Homo sapiens: one gene and its partners. The gene in region 3 interacts genetically with the main gene of each other region. Each region holds a gene or a part of one and is shown on either strand. Other genes may lie near its edges.

What was found. A genetic interaction does not mean that the proteins touch.
Region 1: changes in HMGA1 (region 3) and CYP11B2 together harm fitness more than expected from each alone (negative genetic interaction), as found in Homo sapiens cells (one large-scale study listed by BioGRID).
Region 2: changes in HMGA1 (region 3) and CDC25A together harm fitness more than expected from each alone (negative genetic interaction), as found in Homo sapiens cells (one large-scale study listed by BioGRID).
Region 4: changes in HMGA1 (region 3) and CSF3R together harm fitness more than expected from each alone (negative genetic interaction), as found in Homo sapiens cells (one large-scale study listed by BioGRID).

Annotation. Positions count from the first base shown.
Region 1 is NC_000008.11:142,914,477-142,919,913, forward strand, and holds the start of CYP11B2 (cytochrome P450 11B2, mitochondrial precursor), read right to left. Parts: upstream 3,368-5,437; 5' UTR 3,365-3,367; coding exon 3,126-3,364; intron 2,739-3,125; coding exon 2,583-2,738; intron 770-2,582; coding exon 570-769; intron 433-569; coding exon 229-432; intron 1-228. UniProt on the Homo sapiens protein: A cytochrome P450 monooxygenase that catalyzes the biosynthesis of aldosterone, the main mineralocorticoid in the human body responsible for salt and water homeostasis, thus involved in blood pressure regulation, arterial hypertension, and the development of heart failure.
Region 2 is NC_000003.12:48,177,851-48,182,606, forward strand, and holds part of CDC25A (M-phase inducer phosphatase 1), read right to left. Parts: intron 3,947-4,756; exon of another isoform or gene 3,627-3,946; intron 2,991-3,626; coding exon 2,871-2,990; intron 139-2,870; coding exon 4-138; intron 1-3. UniProt on the Homo sapiens protein: Tyrosine protein phosphatase which functions as a dosage-dependent inducer of mitotic progression. Directly dephosphorylates CDK1 and stimulates its kinase activity. Also dephosphorylates CDK2 in complex with cyclin-E, in vitro.
Region 3 is NC_000006.12:34,239,873-34,243,301, reverse strand, and holds part of HMGA1 (high mobility group protein HMG-I/HMG-Y), read right to left. Parts: intron 2,630-3,429; exon of another isoform or gene 2,566-2,629; 5' UTR 2,522-2,565; coding exon 2,387-2,521; intron 591-2,386; coding exon 507-590; intron 1-506. UniProt on the Homo sapiens protein: HMG-I/Y bind preferentially to the minor groove of A+T rich regions in double-stranded DNA. It is suggested that these proteins could function in nucleosome phasing and in the 3'-end processing of mRNA transcripts.
Region 4 is NC_000001.11:36,475,847-36,480,602, forward strand, and holds part of CSF3R (granulocyte colony-stimulating factor receptor isoform a precursor), read right to left. Parts: intron 4,235-4,756; exon of another isoform or gene 4,141-4,234; intron 3,671-4,140; 5' UTR 3,651-3,670; coding exon 3,587-3,650; intron 1-3,586. UniProt on the Homo sapiens protein: Receptor for granulocyte colony-stimulating factor (CSF3), essential for granulocytic maturation. Plays a crucial role in the proliferation, differentiation and survival of cells along the neutrophilic lineage.

The DNA.
Region 1 (5,437 bases), on a different chromosome or scaffold from region 3:
TCCTCCTCCTGCCCAGACTGCCCCGACACCCAAATCTCCCTGCTCTCATCCCAAATTCTCCGGATCAGCCCAGCCCAGCCCCAGCCTCGCACCAATCTCCCCGGCAGGAAGGTGAGGAATCCCCGACCCCTCCCTGTGGCCTCCATTCCCCACTGGGTGGTGGAGAAGGAGAAATTGGGCCCCCATGGTGTCCCTTCCCCATAGCACTGCCCGGGTCCCTGGCCTCACCGTACTGGAAGATGCAGTCCCAGGCCTCAAAGTGCTCCTTCCACACCTTGGGGCTGATCCAGCGAGACAGGCTCCTGGGCATGAACATGAGCTGGACGGTGGATTTGAACATGACCTCCAGGGCATGGAGGAAGTTCAGGCTGGCAGAACTGGGGCTGTGGCCAACCAGGCCCAGCCGCTCTCCAAAAAGAGCTAAGTTGCTGGCTGCGGGGAGGATGCACTGCTGAGCACAAGGCAGCCCCAGGCCTCCTGGCTGCCTCCCCACACTCCCTTCAGTCCTCCATCCCCATCCCTGGCCACTCCAGGGTCTCTGGGGCTGGACCTTCCCGCATGGCCCACACCTTCTATGGTGTAGTGGAAGATGCTGGGCTGGACGTCCAGGGTCAGGCTCCCCCGGGCGTTCTGCAGCACCTTCTTCTTCAGGGCCTGGGAGAAGTCCCTGGCCACTGCATCCACCATCGGGAGGAACCTCTGCACGGCCTTGGGCGACAGCACATCTGGGTTCAGCCGCAATCGGTTGAAGCGCCATTCAGGCCCATTCCTACAGAGGCCAGGGCAGAGCTTGTGAGGCCGCCCCAGCAAGACACAGGCCCTGACCCGTATCCCATCCTCCTTGTCCCCAAGGGGAATCGGCCTGCAGGGAGCTGACTGGGGGCCCTGGTAGAAGCTGCCTGTTTGTGTTCGAGCTGCAGCCTTTTCTCAGAGCGGCCTCCAGGTGCTGGGCAAAGGCCACTCAGGTCTAAGCAGGGATGAGATGGTAGCTTCTGCCCACAGGTGCTGACAGGGTAACTGAGGTCATTCCCGGGACCTGGCGACCCAAGTCTGGCACCACCTCACCCATGCGGGCCCTCCCTGTAGTAACAGGGTAGGGCTTTTCTCCAAGAAAGGAGGTGACCCCTGTTGTCAAGCTTTGCCCACCTCACCCACACAGTGTCCTGAGGGGAGAGCCCCTGGCTGCCCTCTCCTCCCCACCCTTCCCCGCCCTGGGCACAGTGCCTCTGGGGCAGCAGCCTCTGCCTGTCTCTGTGAAGCATCTATATCTTCTGCAGGACAGAAACCAAGCTTTGTGCTTCATGCCATCCTCACCCACAGCCAGAGTGCGTGGGGGCTCCATGGATGCCCCCAGGGAATGGTGGGGAGGAATTTCCCCTGTCAGCCACATTCCTGCAAAACTCCTTTATTTATGTCCAGCTGGCTGCTGTGAGCTGTTGACAGTGATGACAGGCAGAAGATGCACATGCACACGTGCGCCCATGCAAGACCTCAACACCATGTGTGAAGAGACGCATGTGCATGTGTGCACAAACACTACACCCATGCCGGCACCTGCACATGCACACACACAGACACTTGTGCACACACACCACACATACATTCACACACAGACACGTGCACACACTACACATGTGCAAATGCAGGTACAGAGAAACACACAGCATGTGCACAGATGCAAGACACACACACATACAGGAGCGCTCCCCTTCCTTCCATTATGCGCACCCAGCCTCCTGGACCTGCCTTCCTGGGTCCTGACTCTCTCCCAGATGTCATCTATAGGCCAGCCTCAGTGAAGGCCCCGACCCACGGGTGCCCTTTTACCTAAACCCCACTATTCCCAATAGCGTTCCCTTCCTACCATGGAGTGGGGGCTGTCACCACTGTGACATCCTCATCCAGTCCTTCCCCCGTCCTAATGACAACATCCCTGCAGGTGACCGACTCCAAGCATCAGCCTCTCCCTGCCCACCTGACCAGGCGCCACCCTCTCCACGGGCCAGGAAACATCCTCCCCAGTGCCATCAACCGCCCCACCTTGTGCCTTGCTTCTGAGAACAACGGAACCACCAGCCACCTGCGTCCCCACCTGCCTCCTGCCCCGGACTGTCCCCATCAGGAAGGTTTGCCAGGACTGCAGGGACCCTGAGCGCCCTGAGGGAGGCTGTGGCCCCGGCGAACACCAGGCTCAGCACTCAGCCTGTGACCTGGGCCAGTGGAAGTCCCCTTCTCAGGGCCTCAGTTTTCTGACCTATGGGAAGGACAGTCCCCAGACCGCAAGAGAAAGCAGCCGCCGAGGTTGGTGCAGAGCGGGTTCTCACTACACAGAAGGGCTCATTGCTCTGCGTCTTCTCTGCAGAGGTGCCCGTGCCCATTTCTCCACCACCGCCCTGCTTCCCCAACCCACAGTGCAGACGCGACCCCACAGGATGGCCGTCCTCTGGGCCGGGTGCTCACCCTCACTGCCCACCACAGGGGCCCAGGGCAGATGTGCTTTTGGGTCCTACCTCTCTCGCCTCCCCCCTACACCCAGGCTGCCCACCCTGCTCCCAGCTCTCAGCTCCCAACTCGCCGCTTACAACAAGAACACGCCACATTTGTGCCCACGATGTTGTCTGTAGGCCACCCAGGGCTCCAGGATCATCCTGCAGGGATGCAGGCTGTCCACCTGTTGCAGCTTCTCCACATCCTCCGGCAGCATCACACACACCATGCGTGGTCCTCCCAAGTTGTACCTGTGGGGCCAAGCAGGAGGCCCTGCTGGACGGGGTCATGTCCCTCGTGGCCCCACCCTGCAGTCCCAATCCAAAGTGTCTCCTGTCCACCCTCCCTGCTCCTGGATTAGCGGCTTCACAGCTAAAGCCCTCCTGCTGGCTCCCTGGAACCTTTCAACTTTAGTGCTTCTGAGTCCTGCCCTCTCTGCAGTGAGCTGGGGTTTTCTCTGCACTATCCCCTGCCCTGGCAGCACCACAGACCAGCATGTGCTGCACTCCTTCCCCATCCTCCAAAGGATGCAGAGTGCCGGGACCTGCTGGGAATGGCAGTGCTGAGTGCCTGGCAGGGTCCTGGGCAGCAGGGGCAGGGATCTGGGTGTTCCCAGCGAGGGCCAGGGAGGGCTTTACCTGAAAATGGGCCCCAGCTCCTGGAAGGTCTGGTGCATCTCCAGGTGCAGGTGCTCATAACCCTGCTCCCTCCAGATCTGCAGCAGCCTCAGCCACCTGTTGCCTGGATGCTGGGGCATGGCTTCAAACGGCAGCACCGTCCTAGGGGCCCGAGCGGCTCTAGTGCCCAGTGCCCGTGCCCTTTGCAGGGACAGCCAGGGCGCTGCCACGCACACCTCTGCCTTTGCCCTGAGTGCCATTCCAATGCTCCCTCCACCCTGTTCAGCCCAAATCCTTTTATCTCACCCAGGAACCTGCTCTGGAAACATATCACGTCATGGGAGAACTGGCTCTGGACCTGCCTGAGACTCTCAGAGCGAAGGTCAAGGCTGGAGGCCCCCAGCCAAAGGTAGATGAAGGAGAAGTCAGGTGCCTAATTCCCCATTGCTGCAAGTCCTGCTGGTCTGAGGATGCTGAGAAAAGGCGTGGGGTCTGGACTGGGGGTCCATGCTGGTGGAAGGTGGTGGGACCTGGCCTCTCCTTTCTCCAGGGCTGAGAGGAGTAAAATGGATGGGGACTTTATCTTATCGTGAGATGAGAGGGAGCCTTGGATTCTTTTAATAGACTTTATTTTTATACCACAGATTTAGTTCATTGCAAAATTGATCAAAAACTGCAGAAAATGTCCACGTACCCCCTGCCCTGACACAGGTACACCCTCCACCACAGGAGCGCACTGGTTCCATGTGAGGAATCTCGATACGTTGTTATCAACCAGGGTCCTGGAGTCACATGGGGTCTCCTCCTGGTGGTCAACATGCTGTGGGTTTTGACAAATGTATGTAATTTGTATCCCTCCTTGCAGGATCCTAGGAGTATTTTCACTGTCTTAAAAAGAGGAAAAGAAAACCTGTGCTCTGCCTGCTCATCCCTCCTGCCCCAGTCCCTGACATCTCCGATCTTTTTATCATCACCATGCTTTGGCCTTTTCCAAAATGTTGTATAGTTGGAATGACACCGTTTGTAGCCTTTTCAAAGTGACGTATCTCAGTTAGTAATATGCGTTTAAGGTTCCTCCATTTCTTTTCGTGGCTTGATAGCTAATTTCCTTTTTTTTTTTTTTTTCTAGAGGCTGGGTCTCACTTCTTTAGTGGTTGCCCTAGAGTTTGCAATATACGCTTAAAACTCATCTCTCCAACTCCACCTTCATATAACACTATACAGCTTCAGAGGTAATGCAAGCACTTTATAATCATCAGATATTCTTAGGCTGGGCATAGTGGCTCATGTCTGTCATCCCAGCACTTTGGGAGGCTGATGCAGGTGGATCACCTGAGGTCAGGAGTTCGAGACCAGCCTGGCCAACATGGCAAAACCCTGTCTCTACTAAAAATACAAAATTAGCCAGGTGTGGTGGCGCATGCCTGTAATCTCGGCTTCTCAGCAGGCTGAGTCAAGATGAATGCTTGAATCAAGGAGGCGGAGGTTGCAGTGAGTTGAGATCATCCCACTGCACTCCAACCTGGGCAGCAAAGCAAGACTCCATCTCAAAATAAATAAATAATAAGATATTTTTAATTCCACTCACCCATCCCTTGCATCATTGCTGTCCTTCATTTCACATATACATAACTATGATCATCAAATACACTTTCTGGCTTTTATTTATTTATTTTTATTATTTATTTATTTATTTATTTATTTATTTTTGAGACAGAGTCTCACTCTGTCGCCCAGGCTAGAGTGCAATGGTGTGATCTCGGCTCACTGCGACCTCTGTCTCCCGGGTTCAAGCAATTCTCCCGCCTCAGCCTCCCAAGTAGCTGGGATTACAGGCATGTGCCACCACCACGCCCAGCTAATTTTTGTATTTTTAGTAGAGACGGGGTTTCACCGTGTTGGCCAGGCTAGTCTCGAACTCCTGACCTCAGGTGATCTGCCCACCTCGGCCTCCCAAAGTGCTGGGATTACAGGTGTGGTGAGTCACCGCGCCCGGCCTATTTTTATTGTTGTTGTTTTGTTTTAGCAAACTCTTAGATCAATTAAGATTAAGAAAAAATAAAAGACTTCATTTTCTCTTTACTGATTCCTTCTGAAATGCTCTTCCTTTCTTTATGTAGCTCAGGGTTGCTGACCTGTATCATTTTCTTTCTCTCTGCAGAACTTTTAAAAAACATTTCTGGCAAGTCAGTTCTATTGGCAGCGAATCCCCTCAATTTTTATTTACCTGAGAAAATATTTATGTTCACTTTTGAAGGATAATTTCACAGGATGCAGAATTCTAGGTTGATGTATTTTCTTTTTTCTTCTAACACTTGAAATGTTTCCCTCCA
Region 2 (4,756 bases), on a different chromosome or scaffold from region 3:
TACCTTCAGATTCTCTCCATCGAGAAGGTCCACGAAGCCATCATCCTCATCAGACAAAGTGGCTGTCACAGGTGACTGGGGTGTAAAAAGAGGAATGAAATTCCCTGGTTCACTGCTATCTCTTTCATTTGAGGAAAGCTGTAAGACAAAATTCATGGATTAATAATGAGAGCTCTGATCCACTTTCATTTCCTTGAATGGGTCACTAGTTTTTATGATGAAAACATACTATGTTATACTTGTTATACAAAGCAAAATTTTAGCCATTACTGATTATATGAAAATGTATCCCAAGATTATAAATGATTTGATGACCACACACAGCCCTGAGTAGTCAGTAGCCTTTACAGAGAACTCTTGCCAGAAGCAATTCACCTTATAATGGGTACTAGAGATAGCCTCTTGTGAAGAACAAGGTTTCTTTTATTAGAAGGTTGCATCAGTGAACACCGATCAGCATTGAGGACTGTGACAGTATGAGAATCTGCTGAAATGAGTTAGGGCAAGCAGATGCAAATCTCTATAAAGACCATAAAATGGCCTAGAGAATGCACTTATATATAACTCCAGTTCTGACAGGGGGGAATAAAGGGTAACTTCCTTCTATAAAATCTATCCTCGTTCTTTAGACTTGGGATTTAAATGCTCAGTTTTTAAACGAGGAATTACTGTGTGCCAGATACTACGATATAATCTTTATACATATAATCCAATAGAAGCCTCACAATACACTAAAGGTAGCTAATCCTTTCCTTTTTCTTTAGCAAATCAGGAAACTGGTGCTTAAGAGGTTACCAAGATTATACACCTCATCTGTTTGACTCCAAAATCCAAACTCTTCTCACCACACTATCTCCCTAGGAGAAAACCATTCCTGGAATTAAAATGGCGGTACCTCATTAGCCAACCTATAGTCATACTTTTTTTGGGAAACCTCTAAACATGGAATATAGAAAATTTAGAAAAACTGCTCATAAATCCACACCTGAAGATAAATCCTACCAATACAAACACTGCTAATACTGAATTATTTATTTTCTAGGCACTTTCAAATCCAGAAAAAAAAGTTTAGAGTTATTTTTTTCACAGTAGCAGGGTAGTCCCAATGTTATGACCTACAAGTAATCCTTAAAATCCAAATCTCTTTGGGGTATGAATCTGTTGTTAGTTAAGTGGCCCTCTGATTTTCTGAGTGGATCATGCACCAAGGAATCCTCTCTGCAGCTGGCCTATTCTGGTTCTGGCATTAGCTTTGCTTCACAATATAAAACAAGTTCTGAGCAGTCTCTAGTCCTCCCCAAGTGCACACTCTGGGAAATGGCAAATTTTTTTAGCCTAGGGGTAGATAACTTTATTATGGGGCAGTACCTTTATCACGAAAGCTCACACTATATCACACCAACATTTGTGAGGTATGTTCTGGGATTCCTAGGTGCAGATGTGATACAGGCTCTAGTCGCTAAGCACACACCAAATATATTGTTTCTGATACCCAACTCTTAAAGCATTACTGTGTACTTGGGAATTTAGAGATTGTTTATTGAGACAGGGATTCATTGTCCAGGCTGGAGTACAGTGGTCTGATCATAGCTCACTGCAGCCTCGAATTCTTGGGCTCAAGCAATCCTCCCACTTCAGCCTCCCGACTAATTGGGACTATAGGAACAAGCCACCACACTCAGCTTATTTTTTAACTTTGTACAGATAGGGTCTCACTATGTTACCCAGGCTGTCTTGAACTCCTGACCTCATGTGATCCTCCCACCTCGGCCTCCCAAAGTGCTGGGATTACAGCCATGAGCCACCACACCCAGCCAGAGATCATTAAATCCTGGTTTCCTACTTATGTATATCCTTTGGTAAATCATCCAAACCTCTCTAGTGGTACTTTCCTAATCTGTTCAAGTGGATTAACTCCACTTCACAAGACAAGAACATATAAAAGTGCTTTGTGCAAATGATAGACAGAGTAACAATACTGGCTGAACCTCAGAACACAAAGCAGATTGGAAAGGTATATTTTCAGATTTAAGATCCTAGGTAAACCTGGAAGCCAAATGTGGTCATCTTGCTCAAGTTGGGCCTCTCCAATCTATAGATGCTATCAGTTAATCCAATTCAGACCAACAGCAGGAAACTTTGGAAGTAATGACAGTCCCTGTCTGGCAAATACATAGCCCTGAAACGAGTGACCCCAAAACTGCCCAGCAGCCTGAGCATTCACTGTAATCCATAATAGTTCTTTAAAAAAATTAAAAATAAAAAAAATAGAGATGTGGTCTCACTATGCTGCCCAGGACTCAAGCGATCCTCCTGTCTCAGTTTTCCAAAGTGCTGAGATTATAGGCATGAGCCATGGCACCTGGCCCATAACTGTTCTTAACAAACCACCTTTGGAAGAAGTCAAGTGCTCTCTCTCCAGTTCCTTGAGAAGCACTTAGAATGCATAGTAAAGACCAAGTTTTAAGTAAGAGATCTAGTGTTACGGCTCTTTTAAAATTTGTCTCGCAGGCTTTCCGGTTTTTGCCAGAAAGCCCTTAAAAAAAAAAAAAGAAAAAAAGAAAAAAATAGGAAGAGATATAATCCCACCATACATACATTTAGGATGACCCAGGATTTCCCAGATTAACAAGGTCGATTATTCCTTGCACAACTCCAATATTTCAAACACCATCTCCCACTCTTACTACCGCCTGTCTGTTCTCCAGACACAGCAAAACCACCAAGAATGCTTGACAGTCTAATTTCAAAAGACAAAGTCAAGGTAAAAACAGCTAGTGCTACTGTAGTGCCTTCAATTCTGGATGAAAGAAGGTGTTTTAATCCTTTCTTCCTGTCAGGAATTCCCCTATGAAAGCCAGAGCACATACCATCCGAGCTGGGGCAGAGTTCTGCCTCTGTGTGAAGAGATCTTTACCCTCCTGGAGTCCATGAGAGTGCAGGCAGCCACGAGATACAGGTCTTACTGGCTTCTTAAACTCAAAGGCTTCCTGCAAGACATAGTTGAGACATCTACTGTCCATGAAAACCAACTCAGGCCTCAGCTTGGGTGAAAGAGGCAAGAAAGTGGGCACTGATCACCTTTCTGCCTCCAAATTAAAGTTTCACCTAATTCCAACAATAGATCTGCGTAACTAAGAATTTCCAAGGCTCTGTCAACAGCTAACTTCTAAAGTAACATCTTTTTCTTGTCATACTGTATTTCCTAACACAAGTATCTGCCAAATATACAAAACACGATGAATAAGCTAAATCACAAACTTTCTGAAATCTAAAGCAAAAATAAATAAAATCTAATATAATTGCCTGTGAATAGTTGTCAAAATTTTCCATCTAGGTCCATCTGTTTCAGGGCTTCATATTTTCCACCTCTTCCTACCAACTGGAGATAATTTTTTCTACTTATAATTATTCTATTCTATACTAAAAGCAATGAAAAAAAAAAAAGCCCTACTGGTTTACTCAACGTGGACGATTCTTACAAGCATAATGTTTTTTAAAGCCAGATATGATAGAATACATATCGTATGATTCCACTTTATGGAATGAAAACACTCACAGGTCCCTTGCCCTAAAATATTCACTTAAGAACTCATAATTAAGTATTAAAAGCAGTAATGGCTAGCACTGGCGTGGGTGGCTGAGTTCCCCGTTGCCCTTGGTCTCGGGGTCGCGGTCGGCACTGAGGCTGCAGCTATCATGGTGAACTTACTTCAGATTGTGCGGGACCACTGGGTTCATGTTCTTGTCCCTATGGGATTTGTCACTGGATGTTATTTAGACAGAAAGAGTGATGAACGGCTAACTACCTTCCGGAACAAGAGCATGTTATTTAAAAGGGTATTGCGACCCAATAAAGAAGTTACCTGGAAGTAAAGACTGGCTGAATTATAGAATGTTCACATTTTAAAGTTCTGAGAGAAATAAAACCATGAAGAATCAAAAAAAAAAAAAAAGCAGTAATGGCTAATATTACAGTGATTTCTATGCCAACACAGTACTAAGTACTTTCTGTGCATTAACTTTTTAACCATCAAATACAACCTGATTGTCCCGATTTTACAGGTGAGAAAACTAGACCTTGCAGGTTAAGGAATGTGCCCAAAATATTGAAGTAAAACAGGACAACTCCAGAGTGAGAGCTCTTTAACCACCATCTATGCTGTTTTCCCTTTAAAACAAAGCTCCAGGCAAGCAACCCTGAGAAGCTATTTCGGGGGAAAACCAGGCATCAGTACAGCTTTGCCCTGGTAAAAAGCACTAGAGGCTGATACACTGTTCCAAGCACTCAAGGCTGGAACTCATTTCCATATTCTTTCTCATGACACTTCCCAGGTTGATAAAGAAATCATCAGGAGAGTTCATGGAGGCAGTGGGTTTCACACTAAACCTGAAGATTGTAAGGACAAGGATTATGAACTGTGGCATTTCAGCAGGAATGGAAAAGGGGAGAAAGTAAATATATAGAAATACAGTAGAGAGAAGGCTGAAAAAATTACAACTGTTTTGGATGCCTACTCTGTGCAATGTCTAAAAGAACAAAAAAGCCAGGCTCATTCAGGGTAGATAACCAGAAATTCACCTTCCAAGCCACCATTTCAGTTACTCTGAGATTCCCTAGAACTTGTTGACCCCGTTCTTACAAATACTGCCAAAGAGCCTTTTCCTAAGCTTACAATTCATTTCAGGGTCAGAGCAAAGAGGCAAGGACAGCCTGGGCAGAGCCTTCCAGACAAACACTATTTGTACATGTAAT
Region 3 (3,429 bases):
GCCCCCTCGACATACACACACGCCCCCTACTCCCACCTCCGCCCATGACTCAGAGGATATGAGTCGTGTCTTAGAAAAAATAAAATAAAAAACAAAACAACTTTTCTGAAAGGCTAATGTCACTGTGAATCTGGCCTTTGCTGCCTGTCCCCACCCCTTCAGGCTCCAGGGAACCCCAAGAGAAGGTAACATTCTCAGCCCAGGGACTGGCAGGGACCCTCCATTCTCCCCACTCTGCCCTTCTCTAGATCAGGAAAGCTGTGGGACTTCTGACCTGATCTCCGCAGTGTCCTGGGCAGGACCAACCCCCCAGAAGTAAGACCTTAGTCATCGCCCCACTCTCCCCAGTTAGCAAAGACTCACTGCCATCCCTGTACCAGGGAAGGGGGTACACAACTGAGATGACTGAGCCCCTTCCCAGACCTCCCCACAGCCGTGGCCATGGTGCCAACAAGAGGATCCTCTGCTAGTCATCCACCCAGGGGTAGTCCCATCTCAAGTCTCACCCGGGTCTTGGCAGCACCCTTGTTTTTGCTTCCCTTTGGTCGGCCCCGAGGTCTCTTAGGTGTTGGCACTTCGCTGGGCTCCTTCTGTAAAGACAGAGGGGGTAGTCAGGGACAGTCATCACCTGTTTCCACCCCCTCAGAAGACACAGCCCTCTGCCTCCTCAACAAGGTTAAGTCAGCAAGAACCAAGAACCACAAACCATCCCTGACCTAGGAATCCCTTCAGGATCCAAAGCTCCAGTTTGAGCATCTTTGCAAAGTGCCTCCCACCTCTCCCCTTGCTTCCCTGCAGGTTTCTAAGATGCAAAATGACAAGAGCCCAGAAGACCCCTAGGAAAGGCATTCTGGGGACAGAAAGACAGTTAGGTGGCTCTGCCCAAGTCTCAGTTCTGACACTTATCTTGGGTGGGACACTTAATGCTGGAGCCTCAGTTTCCTCATCTATAAATGGTGAAGACTTCCCTTGCAGGGTGTCATGGAGATTAAATGGGTAATGTATGGTTATCTAGCACTGGGCCATGATCACTGCCCACCCTCTCAGATGACCTATGCTGGACACACACTCCCTGCCTGCACTTGCAAACCTGGAGCCCATCCAGGCTGCCCCCAGAGAAGGGGAATTATAGCCGGACTCCAGAGATCCCTGCCATCATTCCCACTGAAATTTTAATAAGCCGTAGATAGAATAAAAAGCTGCTGCATAATGCATATAAGGTGTGTGGTGAAGGCGCGCCAGCTACTGTTTCCTAGGGGGCCGCCCATGGTCTGTCTATAACCAGGGTCCAGTAACCCTGCACCCCTCCTGACACCTCCCACTGACCATGGCTAACAGGTGGGGTAGGAGGGGAGGCTGAGGGAGCTAGGCTAAGAGGACAAATGACCCCACCCCAGGCTCTGAATTCCAACACAGCAGACTCCTCACAGCTCGTGTCTCCCTGGGCCCAGGTCAGCACAGACCACTCTCCACCGTACGGACAGGGAAAACCTGCAGGTGAACAACCTGTATCATGTTTAAGGGGCAGAGGTCGAACTCAACTCCTCTTACCTCTCTCCCAGGGAAGGGAAGTAACTGGGCTTCACCAACAGCCACCCTTCACTTGGGTGACAGCTGCCTCTGTAAGAGGCCAATATGGGGTCCCCCCCATGCCCAAATGGCCATGCTCCCTAGGGTGCCCCACAGCGCCAGGCTGGCAGCCTCATCCTTCTATGAGGACTTTGTGGGGAGAGCAGCACCAGGGTTCTGAGGGTCACTGCCACCAACTCCCCAACATTTTTGACTTCTTGGGCTTCAATTTCCATCTAAAGAGCCAGGGGCAATGCCCATTCCAGAACTACTCATAACTGGCCTGTGCACAAACAGGTGCTGGCCCACGCAGGCACCCGTTTCTCACCTGGGATGAGGAAGTACAAGAATCGACCATAAGTATTCAGCAACTTTACAGCAAATTGACAAAAATCATTTTACGTGCACTGAATCTAATGATTAAAAACCCTGGGCTTCTATGTTCATTTTTGTTCATTCGTCTTTACTGCATTTTAAAATTACTGGTCCACAGTGGATTGGAAATTAAGAAAAAGGCGAGTGTTTTAAGCACTGGCCATGTGACCTCTGGGGTGCTTTAGGTTTGGACTGTTTGCCATTGGCTTCAGAATTTATCTTGAATTCCTCGGCCCCCGGTTCTCTCCTGGGGTCTCTATAGAGATCTGACCAGGGTTGCAAGTGGGGCAGGAGTACACACAGGTGGGAGGACACACCCACACGCTTACTGCGCAGAATCATTCTGCACCCTCCATGCATGGTCTCGCCTGCTGAATGAAACTCCAGGCACCTCCCTAGCCCCAAAGGGTAAACCAAGTGAAGCAAAGGTTTGGACACCCACCTGACTCCCTACCAGCGCTGTCCCGGGACTCACCGGAGGCTGCTTGCGCGGCCTGCCCCGGCCCCGCTTCTCAGTGCCGTCCTTTTCCTGCTTGGAGGCCAAGGGCTGGCTGGACTTCGAGCTCGACTCACTCATCTTCCCTTCTCTAAGGAGCAGGTGGAAGAGTGATGGCTGGGATGCTGGGAGACAGAAAAGTGCTTTTAGACAAACATCTCGCTTCAGCCACTTTCTACCCCCTCATCACCCACACCTTCAAGGCACACTGCAGAAAACTGTGCTCCCATGGGCCCCCAGGCCTCCTACTCTGCCCAGGATGGAGGGGTCTGCCCACCCCCAGATGCTGCCAAGGGCGGGGAAGGGCCGTTGGCCCTAATCAGCTTCTTATCTATCTCCTGTTCAGAAGGGCTCTTTGTTGTCCTGCCTTAACACCGCCCCAGTGCAGCGTGGTGGGGGGGGTCCCAGGAGGTACAGCCAGCCCAGACCTAGCTACATGGGTGAGGCCACCCTGGGACAAAGGTGTGGGGAGGTGAGATCTGACGTATTGCCAGCATCCCCTCCTTCTGTAGTCAACTGCTGCCCTTTCTCTTTAAGAGAAAATCCAGCCTACGCAGTTCAGTGGGAAAATGGAAAGAATGAGACCTTGCGATCTGGCAGCTATGGACATTGATCCCCTGCCCACCTCACTGACAATATTGCCTATCTGGCAAGGTGCAAGACTCAGGACCAAAAAGAGCCAATCACACAGCCAGGGGTGGTGCCCACCACCAGCTCTCTTCTCTGTTCTCACCCAGGGTAAATCCCTGGAGAATTCAGATTGGTATAATTGAGGGAGGGAGGAGATGGTTGAAGCTAGTGGGTGAGGTGGGGGAGGAAAGTGAGCCCAAAGCCAAAGGCCACCCTCCTCTTTCCCCTTACCCCTCCTCTGCCCAACTGGAGTCAGATGGGACTTTGTCAGATGGGTAGGGAATTCTCCAACTGAAATGCACCGCCTAACAGACCCTGGCTGGCCCTCATCCTTTAGGATGAGGTTTAGGGCTCATCCT
Region 4 (4,756 bases), on a different chromosome or scaffold from region 3:
ACACAGAGATAGTGATGTGCTGGTAACCGTTTATCAGCCAGCTTGGCAGAGAAAAGCAGACCCTGGTTTGTAGTGTGTGCCTTTCCGCGGTGTAAGTGCTCTCACTGTAGCTGATTTCAGCCTATTGATGTGACATCATTGATCGGGGAGTTGGGAAGAGATGTGCACAATTAGTTTTTGCAAGCCAGCACCAGCACACCACCAGATGGAGACTGTTAACTCCCCAGTGCCCTCCCCAAGGATGGTGCAAGCAGTGATTAGAGTGATAAGAACCCATAGCCACAGCAATCTTTTCACAATTCAAATCTGATTCTGCTACCCCATCTCCATCGCAGCACTTCAATGGCACATTATTGCTCTGAAAGGCAGTGTGGTGTGATGGATGAGTGTGGATGTTGGAACTAGACTGCCTAGGTTTAAATTCTGGTTCTATTGCTTATTAATTACATGATCCTGGTATATTTCTAAGACTTCCTGTGCCTCAGTTTTCTCATCTGTAAAATGGGGATAAAAATCGTCCCTACCTTAGTGTTGCTGGAAGGATTACATGCGATAACATATGGAAGGCATTTAGAGCAGTGTCTGGCATGTGAGTATTTGCTGCCATCATTAGGATAAACACTCAAATCCTTCAATAGCTCCTGTGGCCTGGCCCCTGCCTGACCCTCTCAGTTCCAGCTTATACCGGTCTCTCAGCTCCAGCTATTCTGGCTCATTCTTGCTATTCTTTGAAAACTCCAAAATCTTTCTAATCTCTGGATCTTTGTCCCTGCTGTTTTTTTTTTTTTGTTGTTGTTGTTTTGTTTTGGTTTTCTTTTTCTTTTCTTTTTTTTCTTCAAGTTCTTGCTCTGTCACTCAGGCTGGAGTGCAGTGGCACGATCACGGCTCAGTGCACCCTTGACCTCCTAGGCTCAAGTGATCTTCCCACCTCAGCCTCCTGAGTAGCTGGGACTACAGGTTCATGCCAGCACACCTTGCTAATTTTTTGATTTTTTTTTTTTTTGGTAGAGATGGGGTTTCACTATGTTGCCTAGGCTAATCTTGAGCTCCTGGGCTCAAGCAATCCTCCTGCTTCAGCCTCCCAAAGTGCTGGGACTACAGATGTGAACCACTGTGCCCGGCATGCTGTTCTTTTTGGAGGGACTCTTCTTTCTCTCTCCCACCCCTGTTTCACCTGGTTAACGCTTAGGCATCTTGAAGAAACCAGACCAGGCACTAACGAACTGGAGGAGGCCAAGGTCCCTGTACTTCCTCAAAGCTCTTATTATCCTTCATAATTATAGAGTCTTATGATTATTTACTTATCTATCACTCCAGCTAGACTATAAATTCTGTGAGGCCAGCAGACCTTGGCTGTTTGCTTATTACTGTATTCCCAGTGCCTAGTACAGAGTAGGACCTTGGTGAATATTTATTATTATTATTATTTTGAGAAGGAGTTTCGCTCTGTCACCCAGGCTGGAGTGCTGTGGCACAATCTCGGCTCACTGCAACCTCCGCCTCCCAGGTTCAAGCGATTCTCCTGCCTCAGCCTCCCGAAAAGCTGGGGCTACAGGCACGCACCACCATGCCCGGCTAATTTTTTTTTGTATTTTTAGTAGAGATGGGTTTTCACCATGCTGGCAGGCTGGTCTCGATCTCCTGACCTCGTGATCCACCCGCCTCAGCCTCCCAAAGTGCTAGGATGACAGGCATGAGCCACTGCGCCCGGCCGATGAATTTTTTTTGATAAATAAATAAACAAACAAATCAACATACACTTTGCCCGCAATGCTTTCTGTCCTCTCTCAGGTGTTCTTAGGCCCGTTTTACTGATGGGGATGCGAAGGCCCTAAGAGGAGAAGCAGTTTGCCCAGGGTCACAGAGCAAGTTCATGATTCTCAACAAAGGGCTTCTACTGCTTCACAGGCTCAGGATTTCTTTTTTTTTTTTGAGACGGAGTCACTCTGCTGCCCAGGCTGGAGTGCAGTGGCGTGATCTCGGCTTACTGCAAGCGCCGCCTGCTGGGCTCACGCCATTGTCCTGCCTCAGCCTCCCGAGTAGCTAGGACTACAGGCACCCGGCACCATGCCCGGCTAATTTTTTGTATTTTTAGTAGATACAGGGTTTCACTGTGTTCACCAGGATGGTCTCGATCTCCTGACCTTGTGATCCACCCGCCTAGGCCTCCCAAAGTGCTGGGATTACAGGCGTGAGCCACCGCGCCCGGCCCAGACTCAGGATTTCAGGCTGGAAGAAACTTTACAAGGTTGTTTGCTTCAAAACTCTACCTGATGCTCTGCCCTCTACAGCAGGGCTTGAGTGGCCTATTTTTGTATAGCCTAACAACTAAAGATGTTTCTTACATTTTAAAAGAGTTAAAAACAAGCAAAGCAAAAACCAAATAAAAACATGCCACAGGGCTGGGCGCGGTGGTTCATGCCTGTAATCCCAGCACTTTGGGAGGCCGAGGTGAGTGGATCACCTGACGTCAGGAGTTTGAGACCAGCCTGGCCAACATGGTGAAACCCCATCTCTAGTAAAAATACAAAAATTTGCAGGGCCTGGTGGCAGGTGCCTGTAATCCCAGCTATTCGGGAGGCTGAGGCAGGAGAATCGCTTGAACCCGGCAGGCGGAGGTTGCAGTGAGCTGAGATCCCGCTACTGTACTTCAGCCTGGGCAAGAGAGTGAGACTCCATCTCAAAAAACAAAAAAACAAAAACCAAAAAACATGCAATAGGCAGGGCGTGGCGGGTCATGCTTGTAATCCCCATACTTTGGGAGGTCAGGGCAGGTGGATTGCTGGAACCCAGGAGTTTGAGACCAGCCTGGGCAACATGGCAAAACTACATCTCTACAAAAAAATACAACAACAAAAAAAAATTAGCTGGGTGTGGTGGCATGCCCTGCACTACCTTGGAGGCTGAGGCGGGAGGATCACTTGAGCCCAGGAGGTTGAGGCTGCAGTGAGCTGCGATTGTGCCACTGCACTCCAGCCTGGGCAACAGAGGGAGACCCTGTCTCACAAACGAACAAACAAACAAACAAACAAACAAACAAGGAACAGAGACAGTATGTGGCCTGCAAAGCCTAAACATTACTGTCAGAAAAAGTTTGCCAACCCCTGCTGCACAGCATCTTTATCAATCCTGGCTTTAGCTTGCATACCCCTGGGGATGGGAAGTTCTCTACCTCTCAAGACAGAGTTTCCATGGTTGGAAACCAAGCTCTGCCTGGGCTTCTTTATTTCAGGATGAAACCTGTCCCCTTGTAGCTTCCATCCTGATCCCTTTGCTGCCCACCAAGGCTGCATAGGACCCATGGGTTGCTTCTGACAGCTTGGTAGAGATTTGCGGACAAGATCTGCGCCTCACTGGCCTTTTCCAGGATGACCAGCCCGGGTCGTCTCACCATTCCTCTTGGGTGGTGGTTTGCCTGTGGAAGTCTGTGGGTGGGAGACCAGCTACCCCACATCTGTGGCTCAGACTTGAATCTTGTGGGATTCTCTGGGAATCCCAGGAGCCATGTGGCAGTGCAAGGAAATTCCCAATATCTCTCCTTGTAGCTTCCCCTCCCCACTGCACCCTCATCCTTGGCCATACTCACTTCCGGGGAGCAGCAGGATGATCAGGGCAGCCCAAGTCAGGCTGCAGTTTCCCAGCCTTGCCATAGCACCAACTTGATGTTCACCTGTAGGCAGAAGGGTTGTTTAAGACCATGGGCTTTGGAGTCAGAGCTGATCTTAATCCTTGTCTGTCACTGTGCAGCTTTGACTAGGTTGCTTGACTTCTCTGAGCCTTCGTTTCTTTGCAAAATGGAAGTAACAGCAGCCTATACTGCATGGGACTTTGAGAGGAAGACACAAAATGATGCAAGTCAAGGGCTTTTCACAGTGCCTGGAACATAGGAAATGACAGTGACAGCCACAGTTATTATACTTGCCTTCCAGGAAAGAGCAGGGAAAGGAGCAGTGAGGAAGAGCATTCTTCCGCCTTCCCAGCTATCTAAGCTAGGCTACCCCTAGAGAGCAGAACCTGAGATGAGGAATTGCATGCTGGTAGTTTATTTTGAGAAGATCCTAGCAGCAGATAAGGGACTGGGGAGAATGAAACAGGGAAGGAGAGAAAGCCAGCACAAAGTTACATCATCATGTTGGTCACCTCTATGGACAACTGGGGCTCTATCCTGCTGGAACCTTCCAAAGAGCCATGTAGAACACTTCTCAGAGCTGTCCACTGGAGGGTCAATTTATCCCTTGGATGGGAGGGAAGATGGAAAGATTTACCCACTGACTCCTGCCCCCCATTGGTCAAGGGATGCCTCTTGGGGTGTTCATTCCCTGGCACATCCAGGTTGGGCATGCATGAGTACTAGGCAGGTTCTCCTGGGGAAGCCATGCCAGTGTTGTCAGGGACACTCCCTGGAAGAAAGGGAGAACTCTATGGAGCAGCTGAGGCAAGGGGCTGTCAGGTTATGCCTGCAGGAAGCTGGCTGCCTCAGCCATGTGGGCTGAGAGAATATCAAGTGGGGCACCCGAAGGGTCCAGTGTGCCCCCAATTTTGGGCACAGACCTCTGGTGGCCTTCTGGGGTCAGGCATCATGAGGTCACGGCCATAGCACCTGGATGGAGGGTGCCTTGGCTCCAGTCTTAGGAAGTATGCAGAGGTTTCTACCACTTGGGTGGGTGTCCAGCCTCATCTTCACCCTGCTCCCATTGGGGTCTTGGAGCCAACACCTGATCCTCCAGCACGAGTTGGTGCTCTTGGTGGCAGATCA